2 separate regions of the Homo sapiens genome follow, and region 1 is linked to region 2. Evidence: fine-mapped expression QTL. Tissue or cell type: ovary. Region 2 holds a variant in brackets; the other region holds the start of a gene. All regions are shown on one strand. Distances are from middle to middle.

Region 1 (8,189 bases), 79 kb before region 2:
ATACTGGTGTAAAAGTGTTTACAGAAACATCTTTGTTCAAAGAAGAACCTGAGAGATCTCATTTAGTTTTATGTTTTAAATTTATTTTTATAATGCTTTATTAACTTACCTAATGCTCAGAGGGGGGAAATATGTATCAAATTAAATGAAGGTAGAGCAATAAAACCCACTGGATTAAAGAGCTCTTGGTTTGTCATCAGGATTATAATTCATATCTTACTTTGAGAAGATCTTTGAGTAAGAAAATGCAGTGTTTGAACCTGAGGAAAAGTTAAAGTGTAGAAAATATTGTCTTGCCGAAGGATTTTGCAGTCCTCTGTCAGTAACTTCCATTGATTAGGCAGACATATTCAGGTAAACCCTAATCATTAAAAAAAAATTATCAATGTAGAAAGTAATTCCCTTTTTTCTCTCTGAGATATACCTCAATCACACACTTCCCCACCCCCACTTGAAACAGACCTCTTCACTTGTGTTTTTTTTTTTTTTTTCCTGAGGTGGAGTCTTCCCCTGTTGCCCAGGCTGGAGTGCAGTGGGATGATCTTGGCTCACTGCAACTTCTGCCACCTGGGTTCAAGGGATTCTCGTGCCTCAACCTCCTGAGTAGCTGGGACTGCAGGCACGCGCCACCTGTATTTTTGTATTTTTAGTAAAGACGGGGGTTTGCCATGTTGCCCAGACTGGTTTTGAACTCCTGGCCTCAGGTGATCTGCCCACCTTGGCCTCCCAAAGTGCTGGGATTACAGGTGTGAGCCACCGCACCTGGCCAGACCGCTTCACTTGTAAAAGAAATTAGGCTAATAAGAAGGTGTAGTTTTTGAGAAATGAAATTTAACTTTAGCCTTTTCACTAGTAAATAGTCACATCTCATTTTCTTCCTTTGTAAAATGGGGTTACTACTGGCCCTACCTCATATTCTATGAGAATGAGTTTGTAGCTGTTTCAAATCATGAAGTGCATAGTATCACATGTGATAGAATATTTATAACTTTTTATTAGATGCTTAATGTTCAATTAAGTAATTTTGATGTGAAAAATAAAAGTAATAAAAGTATCTTAAAAATAGCATAAGAATTTTCATATTTTTAAACAAGGCAGTTTTGTAGTCCCTTAAGATTAAATACAACTGCTCCTTTTTTTTTTAAACTGAGGCCTTGCGATATTTTGTGTGAATAGATATGCCCTAGGAGTTCAGAAAAAGTTAAAAGTATGTTTTCTAATTAAATGCAGTGCACATTCCTGGATCAATATTCAAAGACTGGTCATAACCTGCTGTGTTAAAATAATCACATATGCTCTTTTTCATCAGATTTGTTGATGATGTAAATAAAATGTGTAAATATATTAGTAAATGTTAATATTCATGTATTTTAAGTTAAGGTTATAAAATTTGTCACAATGTGTTTTTTTATTCAAGTGAAAACAGATGTGTGCAGCTATTTTGAATATTGGTTTATAAACATTCATATTCTTTATCAAACGAACCTGTAGTTTTTGTGTTTCATTCCACTAGAGTTAACCTGAAGGGAACGGTTCAAGGGACTGTATTCGAGGTCTGTATGGCTCCAGGGCCTACGTGTATCCCTTTCTGTTATGCCACATACATTAAATGGCAATGCAAGGTGAGAGCCAGTTGAAACTCTTAGTAATTTAGGAGAGGAAAATGAGAGTAGTTATACTAGAGCAGTTACTCAAAAGAGTTGATTTTTTTTTTTTTTGAGACGGAGTCTCGCTCTGTCTCCCAGGCTGGAGTGCAGTGGCGCCATCTCGGCTCACTGCAAGCTCCGCCTCCTGGGTTCACGCCATTCTCCTGCCTCAGTCTCCCGAGTAGCTGGGACTACAGGCGCCCGCCACCACGCCCGGCTAATTTTTTGTATTTTTAGTAGAGACGGGGTTTCACCGTGTTAGCCAGGATGGTCTTGGTCTCCTGACCTGGTGATCCGCCTGCCTCGGCCTCCCAAAGTGCTGGGATTACAGGCGTGAGCCACTGCGCCCGGCCAAGAGTTGATGTTTTAAAAATTATAAAAGAGAAATGACAATTTGAAGGTATTTTTAAGGATTTATTTTTAAACATTATCCTTCCTTTCATTGTCTTAACAGTAAATTACTTCATCTTTGCTCATTCATATGTATTTTCACATTACTGAATCCCTAACACCCAGTTTGGGGTTTGCTTTGCCTTTTTTCACTTAACCTTATATGGGATTTTTTCTTGCAAGTTTAATTTTTATAAGTTTATTGGCTTCATAATGTATTGAATTCATCTGTCATAACCACCTCCATATTACTAGACTGGGAAGTTCATAATTTTTTTCAGTATTACCAATAGATATTATTGTCAATTGCGGTATCACATTTTCTTTCGTTTAGATTACGTCTTTAGGATAAATATCTGGAGCTCAGATTACTAGGTCAAAGGGTAGAGTTTATTTTTATGACTACAAGTTTTGTCATTTTTGGTAAGATATATCACAATTGACAATGAGGCAAACAAATCAACTAGCCCCCTCCTGCTCTTTCTTCCCAGCAAACTCCTTCCCCAAACTAGTTACTTGAATTTGAGAAACAGTATGAGGTTTTGCCTTTTGGAGACATTATTATTTGAGCCAAGTTTAGGTTATACAGATTTTTTAAAAAAATAACATGATTTGGCAAGATCATGATGAACCTCCTTTTCTTTGAGTAAATTAAAGTACTACTGGCAAATAATAAACTGGTCTTAGGAGGGATGGAAGGCGGATAAGCCTTAATGGAAGTAGAAGTGATCTGATACTGGAGACCCTGAGAGCTTGTCTCTGGCTTATTTTAGCATCCGGGAAAGCCTTGAATATTATGAAAGATAGATTGTAGCCCGATGTCACAGAGCCTTCTTACTTAAGTTTGGCTCAGCAGTCTGGCAATTCCCGCCTGAGTCTTCGCTATCCTGGCTACTGCAAAGCTGGGTAATTTAAATTGAGTGGCACTGATAAATGCTCAAAGAACTTGGCAAAGCTTAAAGATACTTCCTTTCCGCTGGTCTACGGACGTGAAGAATGAGACTTCCAGTTTCCAAGGAATTTGCTGCATAGACTCTATCGCCGGTTTCAAAAGTCAAACTGAGACGACTTTCTACTTTAAACAAACACTAGGGATTTGCTGGAGTGGCGACAACCTTCCGCCGCGTACCTTGAGCCCTTGTTTTTTTTTTTTTTTTTCGGAGACTTCCATTGGATGCCGAAGTTCTCGCCCCCTCACCTCGCACCGGGACTGGTTGATTCCTGGCCTTGGCGGGTGATTGGTCGAGCTCGCTGGGCTATTGGGCGCTGGGAGTCGAGGGGGCGGGAGGCGGGAATTCGTCTCGGGTTGTGTGGTTGAGGGGTCTGGTGGGTCGAGGAAAGGTAACGGCGGCCCCAGTCCTGCACACAAGGCCGGGGAAGTAGCAGCACCCCCAGGAAGAGGGAGGAGGAAGGGCTCGTGCCCTTTCTTCTCTTCCAGGGCTCCGCTTTATTTGCTCTCAGAAGTCGGTTTCCTTTCCTTTTCTTCAGTGAATCGGAGCTCAGAGCGTTGCTTCGGTTTCCCTCCAGACAGGCAAGTCGGAGGGAAGTCCACGGAAAGGGCTTGAGTTCTTCTGCACAGCCTGCGGGCCCATGGGTGGTGACTGGATCACCAGGGTCTCGGGGATCTCAACTGGCTGGGGGAGGAGGGAGATACGGGGCAGAAAACCTGAGGAGGGAGCCTATCCTTACCTCCTTTGAGCGCAGGCCTGTTCTTAGCCCGGGCGCTGCGTTAATTCTTGGCGGGAGGCAGAGGGGTGTGTTTATCCTTTATGCAATGTTTGGGGGAAGCTACCCCATTTTGACACTATTGTTGCCACAGCCGGGGTACAGGACGGGCTGATTTCTAGATTATATCTGAGTAACTAGGCCAGCGTTGAGTTGTTGATTCATATTAAGAGGTTAGATTCCACCATACCTCATTCTCAGAGCTTTACAGATAGAATCGCAAAATGTTAGAGCTGGAAAATACCCTAGAATAATGGTTCTTCTTTTGGAGCACACAAGCAGTGGTGAATGTTATTATTGGCTTCATAATCTATTGAATTGCTATTTTAACCATCTCTTCGTCCCCAGGTTGAATTTACAATTTTTTCCCACGACTGCAAATAATTCCTTATTTAATAACAGTGCATGTAATTTCCCCCGCTATTTTGATTTCCTTGAGATATATTTACGGGAAGAGAAATCTATGGACTTTTTCTTCAGAAAAATGCAATCATGTACAGAAACTTATGCTTGCAATTTCAAGAGGTCATTGTCTCTGAATTACATCCGTGGATCCTAGGTTAAGAAAAGTGGTTTAGAAGAGGTGAGGATTAAAGTGATCCTCATCTGTATCAGATCCTGGGTTAGGTACATTCTGCCCTGGCTAATTTTCATAAAAACCCTGTCAGGTAAGTAGTAGTATTTCAATTCCATATATGGAGAAACAAGCTCTGAGAAGTTAAGTGATTCACACAGTGGAATTCAAACTTAGGATTGCCTTACTCCAAAGCCCATCCTGTTTCTATAATACTCTACTGATCTTCAAATAACATTTTTGAGTGCCTACTATGTGCCAAGGCATTCTCTTTCTTATAACAGCCTTTAAATTAAATTAGGGGTTATCACAGGTAAGGATCTTAGACTAGAGAAGTAAAAAGATATGTCAAAGATAACATACCTGAGTCAAAGATAACATACCAGGCAGTATACCAAAACCTGGTATAGAACCTATGCTTCCTGACTTCTGGTCAACAGCTTTTTTCTTCTAACTGGAGGACTGCAGAAAGGGGTAACACAAAGGGGAAGAACTGGAGAAAGAGTGATGCTACGGAGTTGTAGAGAGAGAGGCCTCAGGAACTTATTTGTTTCTGTAGGTTGATTACATCTGATCTAACTGTTACAAGAGCTCATGTTTAATCTGGTATGTACTTTATCATATTTGCACATTATTTCACTTAATCATTACCACAATCCTATGGGGTACATGCAGTCACTGTGGCTTAGAGAAGGTAACTAACTTTCCCGAAGTCACACAACTAATACCTGGCAGAGTGAAGGATACAAATCTAGATTTGTTAGACTCTAAGACATGCTCTTGACCGCTGTGATTTATAAGACTAGGAAATTATTTTGTTTCCATTTGTTTTGTTTATACTTTTATTAATTCCAGTTTCTGTTTCCAGATTTCTCCCTTAGTTTTGGTTCTCTGGTTTTCTTTGTAAGGCGTGTCTCAATATTTGACATTTTCATTTCTGTTGTAGTTAGGAATCTGAAATAAACAGGAAAGCACTATGTCTTCAATGTGGTCTGAATATACAATTGGTGGGGTGAAGATTTACTTTCCTTATAAAGCTTACCCGTCACAGCTTGCTATGATGAATTCTGTAAGTATTTTTCAGCAGTTAAGTTTTTATTAAGATATAGATACTTATGACCCATAAAGTACATTGAGTATTTGACTGCATTCATATTCTCAGTAAATGGAGAATATTTTCTGGGTTCACTTGGAAGAATATCTAACCTCTGGGAAACTACTGATTGCAGCTAAACTGTATATATCTGTGGTTAAGGCAAAGAAGAACATTCTGAAAAATGTTCTCAGCTCATTTGGAATTTCTATACTTTTAATGAAAAACTGCTATACTTTTAAGTAAAAACAGAGTATTTACTATCTTTTACACAGAATACTATTTTTCTCACCATTGTTTTGTTTGGATCATGTAGAAAATTAATATACAAATTTGAGTAAACCAGCTTTCCAGTTTTGTTACAGCTATTTTGCCATATGTACTTCATATCTTATTTACTGGTAACAAGATTATTAGTATCCTGAATTTGTTCTTTTCCTTTCCTAGCCATGTTTTTATACTTTTATTACATATATATGTATCCATAAACAATATAGAATATTATTTTACATATTTGAAACTGTGCATTGATGTGATACGGTACCTTACTTTTTATGCAGAACTTGAGTTTTTTAACTTAGCATTATTTTTAATGTATAGCCCTGTTGATTCTTAATCCATTTTAATTGTTGTATAAATTCCATTGGATGAATATACCAGAATTTATCTGTCCATTTTCTTATTGGTAGACATTTAGGTTGTTTACATTCTTTTGCAGTTACAAACAATGCTGCTGTGAACTTCCTTTTTTCTTTTTGTTTTTGAGACAGCGTCTCACTCTGTCGCCCAGATTGGAGTGCAGTGGCGCGATCTTGGCTCACTGCAACCCCTGCCTCCCAGGCTGAAGCTATTCTCCTGCCTCAGCCTCCCCAGTAGCTGGGATTACAGGGATGCGCCACCACGCCCAGCTAATTTTTGGATTTTTAGTAGAGACGGGTTTTCACCGTGTTGGCCAGGCTGGTCTCGAACTCCTGACCTCAAATGATCCACCTGCCTTGGCCTCCCAAAGTGATGGGATTACAAGCGTGGCTGCTGCTGTGAACTTTCTTATGCATGTTTCCTTGTGTTCATGTGGGAAAGGTTTTGGGTGTACACATAGAACTGGACTTGCTGGAGCTGGGCATCTTCACTTTATAAGAAATTGTTTATTTCTCTACCAAGTAGTTGTAACAATTTGTACTCTCACTAGCAGTATCCTTCATTAAGTTTTCATCAAATATATTGATAGGTAGTAATGTATTCTGGTTTTACAGAAATCATTGATGCTTGCATAATTCTGGCACAGATTCCTCTTTTCATTTCTTCTCTTGTGCTTGATATTTTAGTAAGATAATCTTAGGGAGAGGTGTAAAGGAATACAGTTTGGATTTAACTAAATATGAGTTCCTTCTGCTATTGTTGTGTTCCCTGGAGTGCAATCTCACTTTTCCTTGCTGTTCTATTTAAACTTCAGATGGAGAGAGACCTTTATAAAGTTAATATGTTTATTATTTTCATTGGTTTCTGTGTTCATAGATTCTCAGAGGATTAAACAGCAAGCAACATTGTTTGTTGGAGAGTCCCACAGGAAGTGGAAAAAGCTTAGCCTTACTTTGTTCTGCTTTAGCATGGCAACAATCTCTTAGTGGTAAGTAGTTGCTTGATATCTTCAGGTTACTTACTGGGATCTGAGAAAATATAATACAGTATTCTTTATCCAGACTGGTTCAGCCATGCTGTCGCTAACTTAAATATTTGTTTAAAGATGTTTCTTTGAAATAAGTTATAAATCTTCCAAAAGAGTTTCAATATAGCAAAATATGTTTAATTAATGCTAAAATAGTATTGAACATAATTTAGTCTTTTGATGAGTCGGAAAGTACATAAAGACTTGGCAGCCTGGGCAGCATGGTGATACCCCATCTCTACAAAAATTGACAATCAATTAGCCAGGCATGGTGATGTACACTTGTAGTCCCAGCTACTTGGGAGACTGAGGTGGTAGGATCGCTTGAGCCCAGGAGGTCGAGGTTGCAGAGAGCTGTGATTGTGCACTCCAGCCTGGGTGAAAGAAAACAAACAAACAAAGTTTTGGATGCTTAGAGTTATTATAAAAATAATTAGATGATAATTTGTATGTAAAAGATGCAAGAGATGGGCTGTCATGATGCTGTAACACATACTAATTGCTTTTTTTGGGGGGGGAAATCCTTTAATATATTTGCTTACCTGTTCCTTTCTCATAACATCAGCACATGGAATATATAAAAAAGAATACATTCTAGTTGATCTTTCTACTTGTTTAAATGCCAGATAAACAGAAATTTAGTATAATATTGTTTGTATGAATTTATATTACTTCCCACTACTTTTCCTTTTTTTTTTTTTTTTTTTGAGTGGCGTCACCTGGGATGGAGCATAGTGATGTGATCATAGCTCACTGTAACCTCAAACTCCCAGGCTCAAGTGATTCTCCTGCTTCAGCCTCTTAAATAGTTGGGATTATAGGCATGAGCCACCAGGCCAAACTATTTTTACTTTGTTTGCTAACAAATGCCTATTAATATTTACTTCTATGAAAGACTATATAAACTACATAATGAATCAGAAATATAATATTGGATACATTTTAGTTACATTAGATGGCTTTAACCTAAAGTATTAGGAGAATTGAGGTTAAACATGGTATGTGTATGTATGTATGTATGTGTATATAGGTATATAGATACATTTTTAAAATGAAATGTTTGTTACTAATAAGAGTATATTAAGGCTGGGCACA
Region 2 (8,189 bases):
ATTTTTAATTGTTATTGCTATATAAAACTGGTGTTTGATTTTTATATATTTATCTTATAATTGTCTTATTAACCACCTTGTTGAATTATTTTACAGGTTTGCCCACAGATTATCTTAAATTTTCCATGTAGATAACCATATTGTCTGAATAATGACCGGTTTCTTTCTTTCTCATTTCTTTCTATTTCTTCATGTTTTTATTTCTTACTATGCTGTCTCAGACTTCCAGTGCGTTGTTTATCACAGGCAATGAAAAAGACATCCTGGGCCAGGCGCAGTGGCTCACGCCTGTAATCCCAGCACTTTGGGAGGCCGAGGCGGGCAGATCACGAGGTCAGGAGATTGAGACCATCCTGGCTAACACGGTGAAACCCCGTCTCTACTAAAAATACAAAAAATTAGCCGGGCGTGGTGGCGGGCGCCTGTAGTCCCCGCTACTCAGGAGGCTGAGGCAGGAGAATGGCGCAAACCTGGGAGGCGGAGCTTGCAGTGAGCCGAAATCGCGCCACTGCAGTCCAGCCTGGGCGACAGAGCGAGACTCTGTCTCAAAAAAGAAATAAAATAAAATAAAAAAAAGAAAAAGACATCTTGGTTTTGTTGCTTAAAGGAGGAATTACTAGTATTGCACCCTTTATTGAGATGTTTGCTGTGATTAAAAATTCTTTTTTAATTAACAGCTCTATTGAGGTATAATTCACATGCTTAAAATTTACCTTTTTAAAGTGAGTTCTGTGGGTTATTTTTATATTATATATTTATATATAATATATAGTATATATATTATATATTTTATATAAATATTTTATATAAATATATATACTATATATAGTATATAACTATATATAATATATTAATATATAATGTTTTATATATTTTTATATATTTTATATAGTATATAATATATTTTTATATATTTTATATAGTATATAATATATTTTTATATATTTTATATAGTATATAATATATTTTTATATATTTTATATAGTATATAATATATTTTTATATATTTTATATAGTATATAATATATTTTTATATATTTTATATAGTATATAATATATTTTTATATATTTTATATAGTATATAATATATTATATATTAATATATTTATTAATACATAAACATGCAATATATTTATATATAATTATATTTATAAATTTATATAAATTTATATAAATTTATTTATAAATAAAATTATAATTTTATAAAATTATTTATAAATTTATATAAATTTATAAATATAAATATAATATAAATATATTATATATAAATATATTATATATAAATATATATTTTTATATTTACATTATATATAAAATATATTTATATATTAATATATTAATACATATATGAATATATATTTTATATAAATATATTATATAAAATATATTTATATAAAATATATAAATATATAATATATACTATATTATATATAAATATATAATATATAAAATATATAATATAGAAATAACCCACAGAACTCACTTTAAAAAGGTAAATTGTAAGCATGTGAATTATAGCTCAATAAAGCTGTTAATTTTAATTCAATTCAATTCAGTTAATTAAATTAAAAAATTAATTAGAGCTGTTAAATAATATATATATTATATTTTTATTATATTATATATTTTATAGTTATTTTTATTGGATTAAGGAAATTTGCCCTAATTCTAGTTGGCTAAGACATTCATCATTATGATTATCAATATTTTTAGGAATTTTTACCAAAGTAGTATACCTATAGAATATAAAGAGTCAGTTCTGTTGAGAAAAGCATTCCTCTGACCCACTCCTCAATCCCAATTCTCACTTTGGAGTGCACTTTTATCTCTTGTAGTGGTTTCTTCTGATATTTAACCACATTTAAAAAAATAACGTGGGTTCTGCTTCTTTGGAGTTTTCAATTTTAGATGTTGTCTGTTGACTTTCTGTTAAGTATAATGATGATTTAGCTCCTTTAGACACGCACACACTCACACACACTCTTCTCTCTCTGTCACACACACACACACACGCTCACTCATGCGCTCTCTCTTCTTCCTTTGCTTCCTGCTTTTCTGCCCTTCTTTCTTCTCTCTCTTCACTCTCTATTCTGCCAGTATAGTTATATTGATATTCAGCGTGGATATCATCACGTGTATGTATTATTATAGCCCATGATAGTAATGCATGTAGCTTACTTGATTATATTTTTATACAGCTTTATGTATGTTTCCTAAGGAACCATAATTAACTTTTTATTTATTTTTCCATTGCTTAGTTTTCTATTTTTCTACCCCCCCCAACCCAGCTGCCAATGTGTAGGTAAGCTAACTGGAATTGAGCTCGGAGTACTCTAATAATTGAATATGTAGGATTTCATTTAGCCCTTCTGTTTTTAGTACAGCGCCTCACCTTTAGTAGTTTATATTTTCTATATTTTATCAGAGTAAATTGCCAGTGTTCTGCCAGTGTTGGAGAAGGATATTAAGCTTTGATATAAGGTGTTGCTGAGGGGACTTCATTTTTCAAAAAGAATAATTTGATATTTGTATTTCATTGCAGGGCTGAATATTTTTCCAAGTTCATGTTGTCTTTCTTGTTTGTTCTTTGTTGGTTTGTTTTTTAAGTCTTTCTACTTATTTGTATTCTGTAATGTTTTGTTCAGTGAAGGCTGATTTTTACTCTTATAGATTTGTATTGTTTCATGATATATCTGAATATTAAAATGTATCTTTCTTATTTATCCTATTTCCCCATTTTATTTTCATTGAACACATTTTATTGTCAGACATCAGAGTTGTCACCAATATCTTTTATTGCTTCAGTATTCAGAATTTTCTCTTTTACAATGTGGGGAACATACTCTTCTGTTTTCTTATAATTTTGTTTTAATGTCCACACTTTCATCCATATTAAAACTTATGAGCCATGTAAAGACCAAAGAACCAGTTAACATACATTTTGTTATTTAGCATGTATTGTTTCCTTAAGTCATTTAGTTTTGCTTGTGATGTAGTCATATTATTCTCAGCATCAGAATTACTTTCTGGAAATAACTCATGGATTTAAGGCAACATATCAACTCTTTAAAGCCTTTTGGAGAAGCCATTTGCTACATTTTTATTTAATTCCTTACATCTGAAAGGCACCAAATAATACCCTGATTGAATCTTCTAAATACCTAACTTATTATTAAAGAGTCTTTGACTCTGAGGAGAATTTTGCTAATATGGCAATCTAAAATATATTGTTAGCATTGTGCTGTTAATAATTGTCTTTGTTTGTATCACTATAAATACCTGAGGCTGGGTAACTTACAAAGAAAGGAGGTTTATTTGGTTCACAGTTCTGCAGCTTGTACGAAGCATGGCTCCAGCATCTAATTTTGAGGACCTTAGCCTGCTTCCACTGATGGCAAAAGGTGAAGGGGAGCTGGTTTGTACAGATCATATGGCAAGAGAAGAAGCGAGAGAGAGAAGGGAGGGAGGTGTCAGGCTCTTTCTAACAA[C/T]CAGCTCTCGTGGGAACTAACAGAGCACTAACTCACCCCCTCTCTACTTAGGGAGGGCGTTAATCTATTCATGAGGTATCTACCCCCATGGTCCCAAACCTCCTGATATGCCCCACTTCCATTACTGGGGATGAAATTTCAATATCAGATTTGGAGAAGTCAGACTATCAAACTATAGCAATTCTGTTCACCTAAAATTTCAATGCATGTTTTGTTGGGTTTCATTGTATTTTTGAGAAGTTTCTTTTTCCAATTCCCTCCCAACCCCTCTATACTTAATATGGTAATTTCTTATAGGGACATTTTTCTGCTGTTCTTCAAAAAGAGGAAAAAATCTCACCAATTTATGGTAAAGAGGAGGCAAGAGAAGTACCTGTTATTAGTGCATCAACTCAAATAATGCTTAAAGGACTTTTTATGGTACTTGACTATCTTTTTAGGCAAAATAGCAGGTAAGTGAAGATAACTAGTATGTATTTTCCTTTTAAAAATAGCCTAATTTGGATGCTAGCATGTGTTTAATACATACCTATTTTGGGTGAGTAAATAGGAGAATTGAAAACAAGTGTTATAGATATTATTATATATTTGCTCTTATTGACACAGACTTAGAGGAATTGAAATTAGTCTGATGCTTTTTTGAGACAGGGACTTCTCTGTCACCCAGGCTGAAGTGCAGTTGCATGATCACAGCTCACTGCAACTTTGACCTCCTGGGCTTAAGCAATCCTCCCACCTGTTTCCTGAGTAGCTGGGATTACAGGTGTGCAACACCCACACCCAGCTAATTTTTTAATTTTTATTTTTTTTGTAGAGATGAGATCTCACTATGTTGATCAGGATGGTCTTGAACTCCTGGCCTCAAGTGATCCTCCCACCTCAGCCTCCCAAAGTGCTAGGATTGTAAGTGTGAGCCCATGCCTGGCCAAAATTAGTCTTTTATATTAATGAATATTGAAATCATTAAATAAATATATTTAATTAATTCATATTAAATTATCTTCTATTGCTAAAGTTTTCTTATGTTCCTACAGTGTCAGAAAGTCCCTTTTTTATTGTATGAACTGTGGAAAATGAAAAACAACCAATCCCTCTCATCCTGTAACTTAAATTATAGTAGTACCTAGTTCTGGTATTTTTTTTTTATTGTGGTAAAATATACATAAAATACACCATTTTAACCATTTTACGTATACAACTCAGTGCCATTAAGTACAGTATATTTGCAATGTTGTACATTGTACTCATTTCCAGAGATTTCCAGAAATTTTTTATTATTCCAAATAGGAATTCTGTACCCATGAAATAATAACCCCTAGAGTCTTTCCCCTCATCACCTGCTAACCTGTATTCTATTTTCATCTTATGAAGTCCTTTCTAGGTATTTCACATAAGAGCGATCATACAATGTTTGTCTTTTTGTGTCTGGCTTATTTCAATTCATTTGGCACAGTGTTTTCAGAGTTCATTTATGTAGTAGCATATATCAGAATTTCATTCCTTTCTATGGCTGAATAATACTCCATTGTATGTATATACCACAATTTGTTAATTTATTCTTATGTTAATGGACATTTGGGTTGTTTTCATCTTTTGCCTATTGTAAACAATGCTACTATGAACGTTGGTGTACAAATATCTGAGTTCTGCTTTCAGTTCTTCTGGGTGTATATAAGTACCTAGCAGTGGAATTGCAGAATCATATGGTAATGCTGCATTTAACTTTTTGAGGACTCACCATACTGTTTCTCACAGCAACTGCATTATTTTCCATTCTCATTATCAATGCACAAGGGTTCCAATTTCTACACATCCTTGCCAACAGTTTATGTAGCAGCATATATCAGAATTGTTTTTGCTGACACTCGTTATTTTATTTTTTGTATAATAGCCATCCTAATAGGTATCAAGTGATATCATCTGGTTTTTATTTGTATTTCCTAATGACTAGAGAAGTTGAGAATCTTTTCATGTGCTTATTGGCCAATTGTATGTCTTTTTTTGGAGAAATATCTATTGAAGTCTTTTGCCCACTTTTGAATTATTGGGTTTTTTTGTTGTTGTTGTTGAGCTGTAGTTATTTAGATATTCTGGATGTCAGTCCTGTAAGAGATATATACTTTACAAATATTTTCTCTCATTCTGTGGGTTGTTTTTTCATTTATTCATAGTGTCCTTTGATGCAGAAAAGGTTTTTAATCTTGTTGAAGTCCAATTTATCTTTCTCTTTTCTTGTTGTTGCCTGTACTTTTAGTGTCACATCCAGTAAATCATGGCCAAATCTGATATGAAGATTTCCCCTATGTTTTCTTTTCCTTTTTTTTTTTTTTTTTCTGAGACGGGAGTCTCGCTCTGTCACCCAGGTTGGAGTGCAGTGGCGCGATCTCGGCTCACTGCAAGCTCAGCCTCCCGGGTTCATGCCATTCTCCTGCCTCAGCCTCCCGAGTAGCTGGGACTACAGGCGCCCGCCACTAAGCCCGGCTAATTTTTTGTATTTTCTAGTAGAGACGGGGTTTCACCGTGTTAGCCAGAATGGTCTCGATCTCCTGACCTCGTGATCCGCCCACCTCGGCCTCCCAAAGTGCTGGGATTACAGGCGTGAGCCATCGCACCCGGTCTCCCCTTTGTTTTAAGAGTTTTACAGTTTTTGGCTCCCAGTATTTTTATAAGATTCTCTCCACAGTTGTTAAGTTCCCAACTTTAATTTTGAGATCTAATCTCTCTAGGAGTGAAATGAATAAGGAAATACTATAGCGAAGACATGGTAGAGAATATCACATTTTACTTTTTTTTTTTTTTTTGAGATGGAGTCTTGCTCCGTCACCCAGGCTACAGTGCAGTGGCGCTATCTCAGCTCACTGCAACCTCCACCTCCCGGGTTCAAGTGATTCTCCTGCCTCAGCCTCCTGAGTAGCTGGGGTTACAGGCGACTGCCACCACACCTGGCTAATTTTTGTATTTTTAGTAGAGACGGGGTTTCACCATGTTGGCCAGGCTGGTCTCGAACTCCTGACCTCGTGATCCACCTGCCTCGGCCTCCCAAAGTGCTGGGATTACAGGTGTGAACCACCGCGCCTGGCCACATTTTATTATTTTTAAGCTTAACCATTTTCTAGATTCTTATTGAAAGCAGTTATACACTGGATGGGATCACAGATATCATCTGGTTCAGCACCTTCATTAAAAGTAGATGAAGGCTGAGACTCAGGTTTCAAAGGAATGTAAGAATTTTATAACTTGTTGCTAATACTTTAAAAACTTTCAGTAAAAATTATCCTTCTATTTTCTCATTTAATAAAAAAGTATAACCCACCTTTTAGTCTCTTTAACCATAATACTGTTTTCTATTTTGTAACTCATCATGTAGTAGAGCATGCAGAGAGCTCTGGACTGGGAGTTAGGAGGCCTGGATTTTAATTCTGCTTCTGCCATGACATATGTAATGTTTGAAAATGAGGTTAGGAAGTAGCTGATAAAAGATAGATGGTTAGATGATTTCTAATATTCCCTCTGAGAATCAGTTGATTCTATGATTAATGGCTTTATTAATATCAGAATTACTGAATTTAATTAATGGTAAGGAGAATGTTATTTTTGAATGGGAAGGTACCAGCTCTTTCAAATGAGTTTTAATGTAATCAGTTTTTATATTGTATGTAGCTGGGTCATAGGTTTTAAAAGTTTTGCCACTTAATTAGCACTTTCTTTGCATCTAGATTTGCAGATGATTATAAAATTGCGATTCAACAGACTTACTCCTGGACAAATCAGATTGATATTTCAGACAAAAATGGGTTGTTGGTTCTACCAAAAAATAAGAAACGTTCACGACAGAAAACTGCAGTTCATGTGCTAAACTTTTGGTGCTTAAATCCAGCTGTGGTAAGCTCATCATGTAAATGGAAATTTTGTCTTCTTGCTCAGTACCAGCATTTTAATAAATGTGGTTGACTCTTTTAAAGATAGTTGTTTGTTGTTGTTGTTGTTGTTGTTTTGAGGCAGGGTCTTGCTCTTCACCCAGGCTGGAGTGCAGTGGTGCAATCTCAGCTCACTGTAGCCTTGACCTTCCAGGCTCAAGCGATCCTCCCACCTTAGCTTCCCGAGTAGCTGGGACTATAGGCATGTGTCACCATGCCCGGCTAATTTTTGTATTTTTTGTAGAGACGGGGTTTCACCATATTGCCCAGGCTGGTCTCAGACTCCTAGACTCAAGCGATCTTCCTGCTTCAGCCTCCCAAAGTGCTGGGATTACAGGTGTGAGCCACTTTGCCCAGCCTCTTCTAAAGATAATTTTATTTATCTAATGTTGTTTTCTTTTAGGCCTTTTCAGATATTAATGGCAAAGTTCAGACCATTGTTTTGACATCTGGTACATTATCACCAATGAAATCCTTTTCGTCAGAACTTGGTGTTACATTTACTATCCAGCTGGAGGCTAATCATATCATTAAAAATTCACAGGTTAGTTGTTGTTTTTTTTTTTGGAAGGCCTTCAGTGTTTCTACTTCAATATAACTATGTAAACAAGTTAGAAGATACCTGAAGTGCCAGCAAGTAAATCTTGGTAGGAAATTCAACATTCCAGTTTTACAATAAAAGAAAATCTGTCAGCTACTTAATGATGTGTCAACAGAAGGAAATAATCCAGTCACTTGGGATGCAAAAGGCTGTATTTCAGCTTCTTCTTCTAAGTAAGTTTTA

Direction of the effects. Positions count from the first base shown, and alleles are read on the strand shown. Sizes are in standard deviations (SD) of each study's normalised expression.
In carriers of allele T in region 2, the expression in ovary of the gene that starts at base 3,323 in region 1 tends to be higher than with C alone (moderate effect, 0.52 SD a copy in GTEx).

The links. PIP is the estimated chance that this variant, and not a neighbour inherited with it, causes the effect.
Region 1: it holds the start of BRIP1, and the variant in region 2 is fine-mapped to the expression of BRIP1 in ovary (GTEx, PIP above 0.99). The same link has a PIP of 0.9 or more in esophagus mucosa and unexposed skin.

The regions. Positions count from the first base shown.
Region 1 is chr17:61,858,662-61,866,850 of GRCh38, reverse strand. BRIP1 (BRCA1 interacting DNA helicase 1) reads left to right here and starts at 3,323. Exons shown (of 20, transcript NM_032043.3): 1 at 3,323-3,567; 2 at 5,282-5,404; 3 at 6,944-7,055. The coding sequence starts at 5,312. It overlaps INTS2 (integrator complex subunit 2), which reads left to right. Exons shown (of 25, transcript NM_001351695.2): 25 at 1-1,484.
Region 2 is chr17:61,780,021-61,788,209 of GRCh38, reverse strand. It overlaps BRIP1 (BRCA1 interacting DNA helicase 1), which reads left to right. Exons shown (of 20, transcript NM_032043.3): 11 at 3,786-3,940; 12 at 7,205-7,370; 13 at 7,809-7,949. Among named protein-coding and RNA genes, the nearest start is that of BRIP1, 79 kb to the left of the region's middle. RefSeq lists an enhancer at 3,965-4,064. The variant C/T (reference allele first, on the strand shown) is at 3,489.